2 linked regions of the Homo sapiens genome follow. The protein of the gene in region 1 purifies or fractionates together with the protein of each later gene. This does not show direct contact. Each region holds a gene or a part of one and is shown on either strand. Other genes may lie near its edges.

What was found. Proteins that work in one complex are often made in the same cells at the same time.
Region 2: the proteins of GPR27 (region 1) and ANKRD13C purify together in Homo sapiens (affinity purification with mass spectrometry; one large-scale study listed by BioGRID and IntAct). This does not show direct contact.

The regions. Positions count from the first base shown.
Region 1 is NC_000003.12:71,752,242-71,755,992, reverse strand, and holds the start of GPR27 (probable G-protein coupled receptor 27), read right to left. Parts: upstream 2,139-3,751; 5' UTR 1,944-2,138; coding exon 816-1,943; 3' UTR 1-815. UniProt on the Homo sapiens protein: Orphan receptor. Possible candidate for amine-like G-protein coupled receptor.
Region 2 is NC_000001.11:70,264,130-70,267,780, forward strand, and holds part of ANKRD13C (ankyrin repeat domain-containing protein 13C), read right to left. Parts: intron 1-3,651. UniProt on the Homo sapiens protein: Acts as a molecular chaperone for G protein-coupled receptors, regulating their biogenesis and exit from the ER.

The DNA.
Region 1 (3,751 bases):
CAATACTGTATTTTTCTCCACATCATTACTAACCAAAACACTTTACTCTTTTAAAACTTACAACTTGACAGAAATGTTTCCATTCAAGATTGCTATAATACAGAGAGCAGTTGTCACTGACGTGGTTTTTAGCAGCAGAAAGTAAACCGGGAACCAAATCTTACTTGTTACTTACTGCTTTAAAAAAATGACTGCCTTGCTACTGATCTCCATCTCTGCTCTTTAAGTTCAATATCAACACTGAGACTTTCAAAGAACCAGCGCAGCACAAGGACCCTGCAGCCGGCAATTCAGAGGGCATTTCGGACAACTTCCCCCCACCCCCCACTTTCTCCTGCTTCCAACAGAAGATCCTCAAGAAATCTAACTTGTGAAGAAGTCCCCCTAGGTTCCTCTACTTCACTGCAAAATGTAATGCCACTTGAGGTTGTCAAAAATAGCTTCTGTAGAAAACTGGCCATGGTCTTTAGGAAACGTTGCATGAAGAAAATTAGTACAGCCTTTATAGAAAAAGAAAAAAAGGAACCACACATGGAATAAAAGACGTCAGTACCGCTACAAAAAGACTGCAGGGCCTATTGTCAGGAAGAAAGTCGAGTTAGGAGGACGAATGTGCGGAGCTGGAGTGGGCTGAGCATCCTACTCCTCACCCACCCCACCCCCAAAGGAGTCAGTACAATCCAAGTGTCTGTCCACTTCGAGTCATTTTGAAGGCAGCTTAGAAAATTAAACAGGGGCCAGAAGGAAAAGATACAACGTCACCGTCCGAGCCAAAGGGAAAGGCTGGGTTGGGGGTCTATGTGGCGGGGCCTCCCTCATAAACCAATGCCTTTCAGGTCGCAGGGATGGGTCGCCTGGGTGGTCCGGGGGCTCTGGCAGCAGGGGAACTGGGCCCTGAAGCAGTCCCTCAGCTCCCTGTTGAAGAGGAAGCACACGACGGGGTTGATGCCGGCCTGCGCGAAGGTCAGCCACACGGAGGCCGTCAGGTAGGCCTGGGGGACGGCGCCGGGCCGCACCAGGACCCGCAGGTAGCTGGCCACGACGTAGGGCCCCCAGAGGAGCAGGAAGAGCAGCGTGACGGCGTAGAACATCTTGCACAGCCTCTTCTCCGTCTTGAATTCTTCCAGCACGAGGAGGCGGCGCGCGCCGCGGCCCGGCCCTGCGGGCCGGATGCCCACAAGCGCGGGCGGCGTGGGCCCGCGGCCGAAGCCCGCCGTCCAGTTGGCGGCCGCCTGGCCGGTGGCGCCCGGGCCGTGGAAGGTCCAGTCGTGGCTGACGGCGGGCACCAGGCGCGCGGGCCGCATCTTGCGGCGGTCGTGGATGAAGAAGAGCAGGCGGAGGTAGACGAGGTGCGTGGCGCCCACCACCACGGCCAGCAGCAGCAGGAAGCCCAGCGCGCCGGGGGCGCCGTCGGGCCGCTGCTCCAGGGCGCACGGCGCGTCCTCGTCGTCGCCACCGCCGTCCAGCACTGGCGGGAAGGCCGCGGCCAGCGCCAGCGCCCAGGCGGCGCACACCAGCATGGCGGCGCACGGCCAGCCGGCCAGGCGCTCTGCATAGAAGCGGTGGTGCGCGATGGCCAGGTAGCGGGTGACGCCCACGCCCAGCAGCAGGAAGGCGGCGTGGAAGCAGAAGAGCGCGGCCAGGAAGGCGAGCAGCTTGCAGCCCAGCGCGCCCGGCGGCGCCCCCGCCGCGGCCGCCGCACGCCGCGCCGCCAGCATGACGGCCGGGAGGCAGGCGAGCGCGCGCAGCCCGTCGGCCAGGCACAGGTCGAGCAGCAGGTAGTACGGGGCGCGGTGCAGGCTGCGCTCCCGCACGATCAGCAGCGCGAACAGCACGTTGCCCGCTAGGCTCACGCACAGCAGCAGGCTGAGCGTGGCCAGCTTGAGGCCCAGGGCGGCCGCCTCGCCGCCGCCGCTGCCACCCGGCTCGCTCGCGTTCGCCATCGCGGCCTCACCAGGCCGTGCGCTCCGCCCCGGGGCCGTCCCCTGCCTCGCCGCTCCCGCAGGCCGCCCGGCCCGAGCTCCGCCGCTCCGCCGGCCCTGGGCGAGCTCCCCGTCCTGCGGGGCTCAGCCCGCTCCCGGCCGGCCCCTCCTGGGCTCCCCGAGCCGCCGCTGTGCCGCCGCCGCCATCTCAGGAATGGTGCGCGCAGGAGGAGGCGGCCACTCCCTGCGCCCTAGGCGCCGCGGGCTTCACTGCGGACAGGGCCTCGCCACCGTCCGCAGCCCCCCGCATCCTCCTCCGTCTCCTCCTACTCCTCCGCTGCTGCCGCCGCGCCTCTTGGCTCTGCCCCCCGCCGGGCCCGCCGCCGCCGCTGCCGCCGCTGCCGCCGCCGCCGCCGCCGCCGCGGAGCCCCCTCCCCTCCGCCGGAGCGCGCAGCGCGGCCGCCGCCGCCAGCCCCGCCGAGGCATCCCGCACCGCCTGGGCCCGGCTGGGCTGGGGGCGCCTCCGCAGCAGCCGCGGGGTCGGGAGGCGGCCGGGAGGGAGGCAGGGCCCAGGACGCAAGGTGGCGACAAGTCGCGTTTGGCCCCAGGTAACGGGGGTCCGGCGGCGGCGCCCGCGCTGGGGTCACGGTGGCCGTGCGCGGGGGAGGTTGCCTGGGCTGGCAGGGTCGGGAGGCCTCAGAGGGGACAGGAATATCTGGAATGAGCCTTCTGCCCGAAAGCTGGGAGTAATTTACGATAGTAATAGTCATCGTAATCCTAAAACCGCTGATACTCAGGTGCGCACTGATGTGGGTGGCAGTGTGCTGGGGAGCTTGGCAAGCATTATCTCCCTCAACAGTAATCACGAAGTTGTTGCCATCCTTAATCCCACTTTATACCTCAGGAAGCAGAGGCTTGGAGGTCAAGGGAGTTGAGAGCCGGGAAGTAGCGGAGCTGGGATTCAAATTTCGCTTGGTCTGATTTCCAGTGCTGGACTCACAGCGACTCCGCAGCATCCCCTGCTCGCTAACTCATCCGTGATCCCGGTGAAGGACCTATATCAGGGAAAAGAAATGCAGCATTTCATCTTTAAGTGACTTGGAAGGTGAACCCTATGCCACCTTCCTCCCAGGATATCTATTTTCTGGGTAAGCCTGAAAGGGCAGCCCCTGTTATGATTCTCAGACACACCGCATTTGTCTCGCAGGACCTTGCATGTGCTGGTACCTCTGCCTGGACCAGCCCCACAACAGGCTCCCTCTCCGTAGGGCCTCCTTCTAACCCGTCTGTTTTACTCTGTATCCCTGCCCTCTAGTCATTTCCTTCTTAGCACTTATAATTTGTCATTATATACTTTCATTTCTTTTTAAAAATCATGCTCTTCTAACTAGGCTCTAAGCTCTTTGAAGGCAAGGGATCATGCCTGGTTTTTGGTACCACTGCATCCCCAGTGCTTAGCATGGTAAAGCCAGAATTAAGCAACGCATTGTTTCTCACCCACACTCATTTGTTTTTTCTTCTGTGCAGAAAATTATTTGTTGCCTACTGATTACATGCAAGGCAGGCACCTTGATGGGCATTTTCAGGATAGTGCAAGATCATAGAGGGCCTTAATGATCAGGCTAAGAAGTCGAAACTTTAGTCTGCAGGCAGTCAGGAGCCCTTGAAATCTTTTGAGAAGGGGAGCGACATGACTAGGTGTGCTCCAGGAACATTATTCTGGCAGCAGTGTTGAGGAGGGATGACAGAGCAGAGCCGGTAAACCTAGTCCAGAGCCTCAAACTTCACTATGTGCAGAAATCACTGGGGACCCTGTTAAAATGAAGATT
Region 2 (3,651 bases), on another chromosome or scaffold:
AAGTATTTTACATTTTTAAATGTTTAGGGAAAAAAAAGAATAGTATTTCATGAAGTGAAAATTAGGCTGGGCGTGGTGGCTCACGCCTGTAATCCCAGCACTTTGGGAGGCTGAGACAGGTGGATCACTTGAGGTCAGGAGTTTGAGACCAGCCTGGCCAACATGGTGAAACCCCATCTCTAACAAAAATACAAAAATTAGCTGGGTGTGGTGGCGGGTGCCTATAATCCCAGCTACTCAGAAGGCTGAGGCGGGAGAATCGCTTGAACCCAGGAGGCGGAGGTTGCAGTGAGCCAAGATTGCGCCACTACACTAGAGCCTGGGGAACAGAGCAAGACTCTATCTCAAAAAAAAAAAAAAAAAAAAAAAAAAATTACATGAAAGTCAAACTTCAGTGTCTGTAAACAGCTTTTTTGGAACACAACATGCCCACTCATTTACTTACTATCTATGGCTTCTCTCATTCTCCAAAAAGAGTAGTTGTGACAGAAACCATAGAGCCCACAAAGCCTAAGATATTTATTATCTTTCAGACAAAGTTTGCTGACCCCGTTCTAGGTTTTGGATACACATCACTAAATAAGAAACAAAATTCATGCAATTATAGAGATTACACTGGTTGGGAGGGTCAGACAACAAATAAATGATGATGACTATCTAGAAAAAAATAAAGCATGACAGTAGAATAGGGAGTCTCAGTGTTGGGGGTACGAGCTGTTGAATAGGGTGGCCAAAGGAAAACCTCAATGAAGGGACTTTTCAGTAAAGACCTGAGATAAGAACAAACCATGCAGTTGCCTGGAGGACGAAAATTCCAAATAGAAGAACACGAAGTACAAAAGCCCTCAAAGGAAGTATCTGGTTTAATCTCGGAACAGCCAGGAGGCCAATGTGGCTGCAGCCAAATGAATGAGAGGAAGATTAGCAGGCGATGAGGTCAGAGGGGAAATAGGCTGCCAGATCAGGTGGAGTTTAGGCCAAAAAAAAGACCAGCTTTTATTCTGGATCAGGTGGAAAGCCAACGGAAGGGTGTGACCGGGGTAGTACTATAACTGGAGTTTTGGCAGATGTAGTGAGAATATAATACAAGGTGACAAGAGTGAAGAGGGAGATGTGCTCCAGAAGGAGCAGCCAGAGAGGGAGGAAGAAAACCAAGAGAGAGTCTATCAAAGAAGTCAGAGGAAAATGCAATGACTTGTCTCAGTTATTCATTGAGCCAAGGACTTCAAAATAAGAAAAGTCAAATCTTGAAGAGATTAGTATAAAAACAGAAAAGTTTCTACTACATTTAACAATAAGGATCAATAATAAATAAACAGGAAGAGAGAATCTGTAATGAACTAAGGAAGTGAATATGCTTTTTATTTTGAGACAATTACAGATTCACAAGCAATTTTAAGAAATAATACAGGCCAGGCACAGTGGCTGACACCTGTAATCCCAGTACTTTGGGAGGCCAAGGTGGATAAATCACTTGAACTCAGGAGTTTGAGACCAGCCCGGGCAACAAAGTGTTGAGACCCCATCTGTACGACAAATACAAAAATTAACTGGGTGTGGTGGCTCATGTCTGTGGTCCCAGCTACTTGGGAGGCTGAGGTGGAAGGATGGCTTGAGACTGGTAAGCAGAAGTTGCAGTGAGCCGAGATCATGCCACTGCATTCTAGCCTGTGCAACAGTGTCAGACCTTGCCTCAAAAAAAAAAAAAAAAAAAAAAAAAAAGAAAAGAAAAGAAAAGAAGAAGGAAGGAAGGAAGGAATGGAGGGAGGGAAAGAGGACGGAAGGAAAGAGAGAGGGAGGAAGGGAGGGAAGAAGGAAGGAAGGAGGAAGCAAGGGAGATTTCCTGTAGCCTTTATTCAATTTTATCCAACTTTAACATCTTACAAATAATACAACATAAAAATCAGGATATTGACAGTATAGTAAAACATGATGAATATTTCCATAACCACATGTTGTCCTCATGTTGGATCCCACAGTGTTGCCCTTTTATAGCCACAATTGCTTCTCTTATGCCTCACCCCTTCTGTAGTCCCTGGCATCCACTCAACTGTTCACTGCCACAGTTGTTTTCACTTCGAATACTTTATATAAATGGAATCATACAGTATCTAATTTTTGGGATTGGCTTTTTTCTACTCAGTATAATTCTCAAGCAATTCATCCAGGTTGTTTCATGTATTAGCAGTTCAATCTTTTTATTGGTGAATAGTATATCCCACGGTATAGGTGTATCATTGTTCATTTACCTGTTGCAAATTGTAGTTTTTGGCTATTACAAATAAAGCTGATATAAAATAAACATTTGTGTACTTTTTGTGTGTGTGTGAACATACTCTTCATTTGTCTGATCTAAATGCCTAGCAAACTAATACAGCTATTCTAGGTTCTTTGCCTTTCCATCCAAATTTTAAAATAATCTTGCCTATGTCTATAAAAATATCTTGCTGGGAGTTGTCTCTCAGCACTGCTTTAGCTATGTTCCACAAATTTTGATATGTTGCAATTTCATTTTCATTCAGTTCAATTTATTGTTTTATTTCCTTTGAGACTTCCCTTTGACATATAGATTATTTAGAAGAGTGCTCTTTAAGTTTCCAAGTGTTTGGACATTCTCTTGTCTTTTTTCTAATATTAATTCCTAGTTTAATTCCATTGTAATCAGAGAACACACTCGGTATGATTTTCGGTTCTTTTATATATATTCAGGTTTGTTTATAGCCAATATGGTCTACCTTGGTATATGTTCCATGGGCACTTGAAATGTATGTGTATTCTGCTGTTGTTGGGTAGAGTATTCTATAAATGCCAATTAAATCCTTTGGCTTATGATGTTGTTGATCTACATCCTTGCAAATTTTCTGTCTGTTGTTATATCAATTGTTGAGAGAAGGGTGTTGAGTCTCCAGTTATAATTGTGGATCTATTTTTCCTTTCCATTCTTTCAATTTTTGTTTCATCTATCTTGCAACTCTGTTACTTGGTATATATACATTTAGAATGGTCACATCTTCTTCATAGATTGACCCTTTTATCACTAAATAATGTCCCTCTCTGTCTCTAATAATTTTCTTTGCTCTGATATCTGCCTTAATTTTAATATGGCCAATCCTGTTTTCCTTTGATTAGTGTTTGCATGATATATCTTTTTCCACTCTTTCACTTCTAATCGGCCTATATCATTATATTTCAAGTGAGTTTACTGAAAATAGCAGACAATTGGATCATGGTTTTTGTTTTGTTTTGTTTTTTTATTGAAACAATCCTGCTCTGTCACCCAGGCTGGAATGAGTACAGTGGCGCGATCTTGGCTCACTGCAACTTCCGTCAGCCTCCTAAGTTTAAGCAATTCTCCCACCTCAGCCTCCCAAGTAGCTGGGATTACAGGGATGAGCCACTGCACCCAGCCTGGATCATGTTTTTTAATCCACTTTACCAATCACTATCTTTTAATTGGTATATTTAGACCATTTACATTTAATGGTATTATTAATATGTTAGGGCTTAGGTCTGCTATTTTATTTTTTGTTTTCTGTTCATTCTCTCTGTTCTTCATTTCTCTGTTTTCTTTTTCTTGCCATCCTTAGGTTACCTATTTTTTAGAATTTCATTTTAATTTATCTATGGTGTTTTTGAGTTATCTCTTTTTAC